2 linked regions of the Homo sapiens genome follow. The protein of the gene in region 2 interacts with the protein of the main gene of each other region in a biochemical or structural test. Each region holds a gene or a part of one and is shown on either strand. Other genes may lie near its edges.

Evidence for each region.
Region 1: of the proteins of ETV1 (region 2) and MAPK8, one has a biochemical effect on the other in vitro, tested with the Homo sapiens proteins (one study listed by BioGRID).

Annotation. Positions count from the first base shown.
Region 1 is NC_000010.11:48,309,443-48,313,270, reverse strand, and holds part of MAPK8 (mitogen-activated protein kinase 8), read right to left. Parts: intron 1-3,828. UniProt on the Homo sapiens protein: Serine/threonine-protein kinase involved in various processes such as cell proliferation, differentiation, migration, transformation and programmed cell death.
Region 2 is NC_000007.14:13,934,110-13,937,937, forward strand, and holds part of ETV1 (ETS translocation variant 1), read right to left. Parts: intron 1,788-3,828; coding exon 1,599-1,787; intron 1-1,598. UniProt on the Homo sapiens protein: Transcriptional activator that binds to DNA sequences containing the consensus pentanucleotide 5'-CGGA[AT]-3'. Required for olfactory dopaminergic neuron differentiation; may directly activate expression of tyrosine hydroxylase (TH).

The sequences.
Region 1 (3,828 bases), on a different chromosome or scaffold from region 2:
AGTATAGACGGGGTATCACTATGTTGGCCAAGCTGGTCTCAAACTCCTGACCTCAGGTGATCCGCCCGCCTCGGCCTCCCAAAGTGCTCAGATTACAGGCGTGAGCCACCGCGCCTGGCCTATGTCTGTATTTTTTACAGAAATGTTAATGTGTTTAATCATGAGGCTACAACCTCTTACTAGGGATTTTGGATAACACGGTAGATGTGCTACATTATCTTTCCACAACTGCAAAAAAAGCCTTCATTCTAAAATACATCTGGACCAAGGATTTTGAACAAAGGATTATATACTTAAACATATATAAACTATCTTTGGAAGTATTCACAGGAATTTTAACAGTTTCCAGGCAGAAGAACTAGGTGGCTACACAGAGTAGAAAAGGAGATTCTTTATCTTTTTAAATCTTTGGAATTTTGAGTCAAAGTGAATTCATTACTACTTAGTCAAAATATAAAATGTAAACAAATTAAAACATTAAGACTTTTAAATTCTCAATAGTAACAGCCAAAGCTAGATGCTTTGGTTTTTGTTTAACTGAAAAGTGACGCTTTCTCAAGTCACAGAAAAATCCACACAGCAGTAGCTTTTCTTTATCTTACCTTTGGTTGACCCAATGGCATCTGAAAATCAGAAAGCCATCCTTCCTGGAACAAGTCAGAAAATGGTGATTTTTCTACCCAATTAATGACTTTTAGGAAATAACATCTTATGGTTTTGATGTTTCCTGCCAAGCAAAGCAAGTGCTTGTGTGTGGCTATTTTTCGTTTCTAGTTTCCCCAGAAATATGGTGGGTGGCAGGCTTGAGTCTCTCAGCACCAAGAGGCAGTACTGGAGGACTATACTTCTCAATACTGGAGAGAGACTTTAAAAAGTGTTTCTAGTACAGATCCAGCCTTACATCATAAGAGCTTCAATACAGAGGAGATTGAGAACTCTGGTTAGTACCTGAGTAGCATCTTTTCTACTGTCAGCTTTTCATATTTCTCATATACTTATTTTGATACCCTGTTGTATTCCAAAATGAATTCATAAGGTTTGCCTTTTCTTATGATTTGGATTTTGACTAATGTGCACCACACTCTCAACTTAAACCAGGAATCAGAAAAGAAGATATCTTGCTTTCTCAGGTTTATCGAGTGAGTACAAAGGCATGGCAAGAGATGTAAGGTTTGGAAGGCCCCAAATGCCCCAATGACAAAAGAAATTCCTAATGAAATGACTAACAATATTTGCTTCCTTGTGTTAGGACATAAATGTGCTTACGTTAATCCTTATCTTCTATCAAATTATACTCAGCTCACTGAGGGTAGAAACTGACTTCTATTTCCTTTGGTTCCTACATCACCGAATACCTGGATTAGTATAGTGCAATGCTCAGTAAATACTGCCGAAGTAAAAACCAGTGTCATCTCATAGTAGATGCTCTTGAGAAGGAACAAGAAATTTAATCCACCATTATAATCATAGAAACGCTAAACAGAAGACTTAGAAAACCACAGAAAATACAGAAAAGATAATATTTCTAAGTGGTACTAATAAATAATCTCCCTCATTTTTTAAGAGGCCTCCAGGCCTCAATGAATTGTTGTGGTTACCAGGTCTCTGACAAATCTGCAATCTTCACAGAATCGAAGATCCCAATAACACTAAATTTAAAAGATGTGACAGCATTCCATTTTCTTCAAATGTGTCACATGATAAAGCTATTCGTAGCTCCTAAATTCTCATTCCTTTAGATGTCTATAACAAACCTAGGAAAGCTTAGGCAATTTTCTCCTGTGGGAAAAGGCAAAAAATCGTGAAAGTGGCAAATATGTTCCCTTCAATATTTGCTTCTGGAACATTTCCAAATTTTAAGATAGAGAGGATTACTGGTCCAAATGTTAATATAAATCATCTCAGTCAATTCAGATTACATGAGATGATCGAATTTTAAATAAACCCCCCAGAGATGCAGAGTGAAACAAATGGCATATTCTGGAGAATTAGAATGGACACTGTGCATTAAACTGGTTTGACGTTTACTTGGCATTTTATGTTTGTTCAAAGTTAAATATAAGTGATAACAATAGCAAAAACTACCTGAATACTTGTATCTAGCATTCCAGCCACCACAACAGTGCCAGGCACTTTACATGCAGTACCTAATTTAAACCTCACAGCCCTATGAGGTTACGTGCTATTATTATTCTCATTTGACAGATAATAAAACAGGCCCAAATATGTTATATAACCTGAACTAGCCTATACCACAGTTAGATTGGAGCACGATTAGAACTCAGGGCTGACCTTAAAACCCACGCTAGCAATCATTGTAAGGTTTGAGTTCCTTGACTTTCTAAAGAATGGCAGATTTTAACTAAATCTGAAATATAATAAAGGGTAACAGGAAACACAGGTATCTCTTGTATTTGTGATATAACCCACCTCCAAGAAAAAGAATGGAAGCTACTAAGTTTTCCAAAAAGGGGTCTCCTCTCTGTCTCTCTCCATGCACATACGTATACACACATACACACACACACACACACACACACAATTTTAAAAACTGGATTTCAGTGAAATTTGGCCTGCACAGAGATGTGAAGTGGGCTTTTGTTTGGCGGGAACCCTTTCATATACCTTTTAAAAGAGCATAAATTAACTGTTTAGCGATGCCTTCAGTCTAATCCTTGATTATAAGCTTCCTGAGGATAATGAACTCATTTTATGTCTTCCACAAAGTCTCTGGGAGCATACGGTCTCATTAGAAGGCATGATGCTGTGGAATAAATAAAAGCCTACCTTTCCAAGAATCTCTAGCTTATGGTGAAGCCTTCCATTTGTTTTCTAAGTCTGGATATTAAAGAAAAAATTCAACTCAACAATTTTTTTGGCTTCTGAAAATTACAAAATTACAAAATCCTAACTTTGACTACTGTTCTTAACTTAGGCTTCTGATTATCACCCAAGAAGGGCTCTTTTTGTCCTAGTATGTTTTCTCAAGAACCACCTATCTGAGGAACAAGCCTTCTATAAAAAAAAGTTCTGACAGCCTCAGTTTATACTTTTAAAGCCAAAAACATTAAGGCACTTGCCTAAAGCTCCAGAATTTGATGACAAAGTCCAGATGGCAGAACTGAGAAATGAACCTAGGTCTGATTCCTGGATTGCTCTAGCTCCACCTATTGACCTGAATGACAGGATAACTCATTTCAATACTCCTGTTACCTTTCAGTCAACTCACTTCTGAAATCAAAGTTCAACTTAACCTGCATTAAGAGTAAGAATGCAAGGCTTCTAAATGTTCAGGTAAAGAGCTCATGATTAAGACAATCAGCATCACAGTTCACTGACATAGGCAAATGATTCATATATAAAGCTATGTGGTTATAATGACTTCCTTGGACCACATGAATCAGAAAAGCTACTACCCATACCATTGACTTGACCAGAGACCTCTAGAGCACTGGAATCCTAATGTCAGACATTATTTTGTATTTCCACTCGTGCAACAAAGCATCTCAACCATGTAGATGACTGAAATATGTCAAAATTCAACCCGCTGGCAAAGCAGACCAACAAGAAGCAGGCTCCTATTCAACAACCTCTTAGCACTAGGATAGTTGGGGACTAGTCATTTAACAACAAATTCCTTCAAGTTGTTTCACTGAACATCTCATCCTCACAAGGTCACTTTGATAATATCAGGCATGGAGCAAATAGTTAAGATTATAACCACATTAATTTGTATACAATTTATTCTTGCACTGACTTCCTTTCCAAATGGCATTTCCCCCAGGATCTAAAGGAGTATGAAGGATATAGTTTCCTATTCTGCCAGGA
Region 2 (3,828 bases):
GTCCATCTGTTTAATGGCCCACCCTGCAATAAGAATTCTTTCATCTGTATTTACAAAACTGTTTACACAGATGCACATACCATTGCACTCTGACAAAGTCTCAAGGCTACAGGGTGAGAAGAAAAAGATAATAGGAAGCATTTAATAACTACCCCACAAGAGGACTTAGTGATGGAACCAAGGGTGGAAAAGACAAGGCTTTGTATCACATTGTAAAGAACGCTTTCATCTTACGCCCTTTATAGCAAAATGAGTTTCTGAATTTGAGATTGAGTCCCATGAAAAAACCTATAAAAAGCACATTTGAGTGCTCCCTTATTTTCAGAAAGTTGCCAGTGGCACATCTTCTGCTTTCCTCTGCTGATCTAGAAGATTCCTTTGGCTGAGTTATTTTTACAACGGTGTCTCAGGGCCAGTTTGCACTGACTTATTGTCAAACTTGCAGGAATTTTTTGAGCCAGTTCTTAAACACAGCCACTATTAACAGTTAAATTATATAACTTCACAATCAAAAAATATGTTAAAAACAGAAGATAAAAATGCAAAACTCATCACTTTCTAATTATCTTACTACATTTCATTACCAATTATACACCTGAGGTTACTTATGTCTCTGGTATCCGTATGCTAGAAATACTACATTACGCTGTGCTATTGCATCTTTGCAACTCGGCATTCAGGGTTCTCACAGTGATGGCTCGTAGTGGGCCATGAAAGCAATATGTACATCACAGACCCAGCAAAAGCTACTGATGAGGGCGTTTTGTTTTTCTCTCATGCAGGCTGTTGCTAAACATTTACCAGCACGCCACTGCATACAGAAGCACAGGGCAGAAGAGATAAAGAAGGAGAGATGCTGTATATAAGCAACCTGATTTTAAGCTGTATATTAAGGTAGTACATCTCAGAACCTCTACAGGTTTTATTTAGTATTTTACTTAAATATGAATTTCTTAATCTCAAGGAGTCATGAATTACCTAACGCAGTATTCTCCTTAGATCTATGCTATGCTTCTTGCCTTGCTCCTTTCTAAGTAATACTAATTGAGTCTCTATCTCTTTAATTGTATATTCGCAGTGTCCAGAGTCATGCGTCTACTGATATTAAATATTAATCACCTGGAAAAGATGGTCAACAGTTTTAATCAAATAAGTTATATTCTGCAAAACTATGTACAGCTGAACCATTCAATATAAGGTAGAAAACCTAATTCCATAAGCTACCTACTAAAATTAGTCTCCTAACTTTACAGAACAAGTACACACATATGCTCATAAAAATGGGATGATCTGATTTAAAGTTTAAGTGAAGCAATTTAATTCAAGCAAAGCGAAAGGGAAATGCTCAAATGTCAGTAGATAGATTAATTTTCCATTTTAGCAACCAATTTAAATGTTTATAAAAGGAATGTTTATAAATGACTTTCTCCACAAATTATAAGTATAGATAGAGTGAGCTCTTTCTAAAAATATTTTGCACAGATGTGCAAAATTAATAGGCTCACCTTAAATCTACTCTAGGCCTTCAGAATTGTTAATAGAAATTTTTTCCAAGAACGCAAAAAACAGTTTCTAGAAAACTGGTATCTGCAGGTTACCTGTGGTCCATGGGGTAGCTGCTATCTGGTATGGACTGCGATGGAGGGAGGTGAGCTGGGAAGGCCCGGTCAGGTTTCGGTGTATGAGTTGAGTTTGGAGATGCATGATGCAGTGGGGACACTGGCGTGCTGGATGGTGTGGGGGGGTTGGAGGGCCTCATTCCCACTTGTGGCTTCTGATCATAGGCACTACCCAGGGGACAAAAGAAGAGAGAACATTTCTTTCTTTGGAGCAATTTTTTAAAAAAGTTTCTAATCCAAAGGAAGAAAAGATATTTTAGACTTAAGTCAAATGGAAATGAAAACTTTGTTGTTGCTATTGTTGTTTAAATCCAGAACAGATAAACTTCAAAATCACAACACCCTTAAACAGAAAATAGGATGATTAATGCAAAACCTTGTAACAGAACAAATATTAAATGTGTATTTTTAATGCATATACAAACAACTTAGTACAGGGAAAATTACGTCCAAAAAAGCAGTGGTATTTTTTCCATCTATTCTTGATATATCTATTTGAGAAAGTTTGATAGATCTTTCCTAAATCATTAAATACTTCTGATATTATATTCTTCTTTTATATTATGTAAGATTTTAAAACAAGAACTAACATCAGCTTAATAAGGCAGAGACCACACCTGGCTTGCTTTTATTTGTGGTGGGATTTTAAGAAGGCAATGCTTTTACTTTATTTTCATTTTATTATATTAAATAAATGATGCTTGGCATTAACTTCCCCACATGGGATAATGAAGATTAATGAGGTAAATTAAAATGTCTGATATATTTAAACTTTCTTAGAGAATAAGTAAAAAATAATGTCATTAGGAATAAAATCCTATTATAGTCTAACTTCTAAACACAGTTACAGAAGAATAAAATGAGTAAGCTTGATTTTACATTATGATTTTAAACTGCTTTCCTAGGTGTAACTTTCAGGAATGTGATTTAGCTAATTTTGGTCATCTATAAAATATTTTACTAAAACTAAATTTTCTTAAATTTTTTTTAACAACAGGGCATTTCTAAGTTAGAATGCTGTATTTCATTTTGCTGGGCGCAGTGGCTCATGCCCCTGATCCTAGCACTTTGGGAGGCTGAGGTGGGAGGATCGCTTAAGCACGGGAGTTTAAGACCAGCCTGAGCAACATGGTGAAACCCCGTCTCTACTAAAAATACAAAAAATTAGCTGGGCGTGGTGATGCATGTCTGTAGGCTCAGATATTCACGAGACTGAGGTGAGAGGATCGCTTGAACTCGGGAGGCAGAGGTTGCAGTGAGCCCAGATTGTGCCACTGCACTCCAGCCTGGCTGACAGAGTGAGACCCTGTCTCAAAAAAAAATAAGTAAAATAAAATAAAAAGCAATCATCAGTACACTTTTTTCTTTAGAAAGAAATATTTCTTTTTGAATTAAATTATGTAATAATTTATTCTGTTGCTCCATCAATGCAACGGAATTATATCCAGCTGCAAAAATCTTTTACAAGGAGTAAAGGAATATATGCTGCACAAGGCAGCTCTTGCTTCAAAGCAAAGTCAACAGTGTTCATATAATGAATTGCATGTTTGGTTCCACCTATGTTCTTTACCAGTATTTCTGAAGAAAAACCCACTTCTTTTGTGAAATGGTTCACCTAACTCATTCTCATGAATGAAGAAACAAATGATACTATTCCCCCATGAAATGCTGTACTCAATAATATTTTCTGTATAGCGATGGAAGTACCAGAATTTATTGCATATGCCATATATCACTGTGGGGACTTTTCATCCCCCAAAAGAAACACAAAATATTCAGGCAATTCCTTTATTATTGATTTGTGGATGTCAGATATGGCATATAAAACAGTGATGATTTCACAGTCACAATTCTGATTAATGCTGAAAGGCAATGACAATTCTATATCTAACTGCCATTGACTAGAAATTCCTCAATATGTTAAATAATTATGCTGTGGATACACAGTACTTGTAAGGAGAAAATGCAAAAACAAAACTAAACTATAAAATAAAACTCAGATCGATCAATACTGTCTTATCTGAACTCATTATGCTTTAATAGTTACCTTCTACAAGAGACCTTTTTTATAAAACTTTGCAGTTTCAATTGAGCTAGCTCATAATTTCAGGCTCTGGTGAACCTCTTAGAAAAGCAAATATAAAAGACAAGTTTGCAAGAACAAATGGTAATAAAATATCTGAGCATTGGTCAGCTGCCATAATGGCAC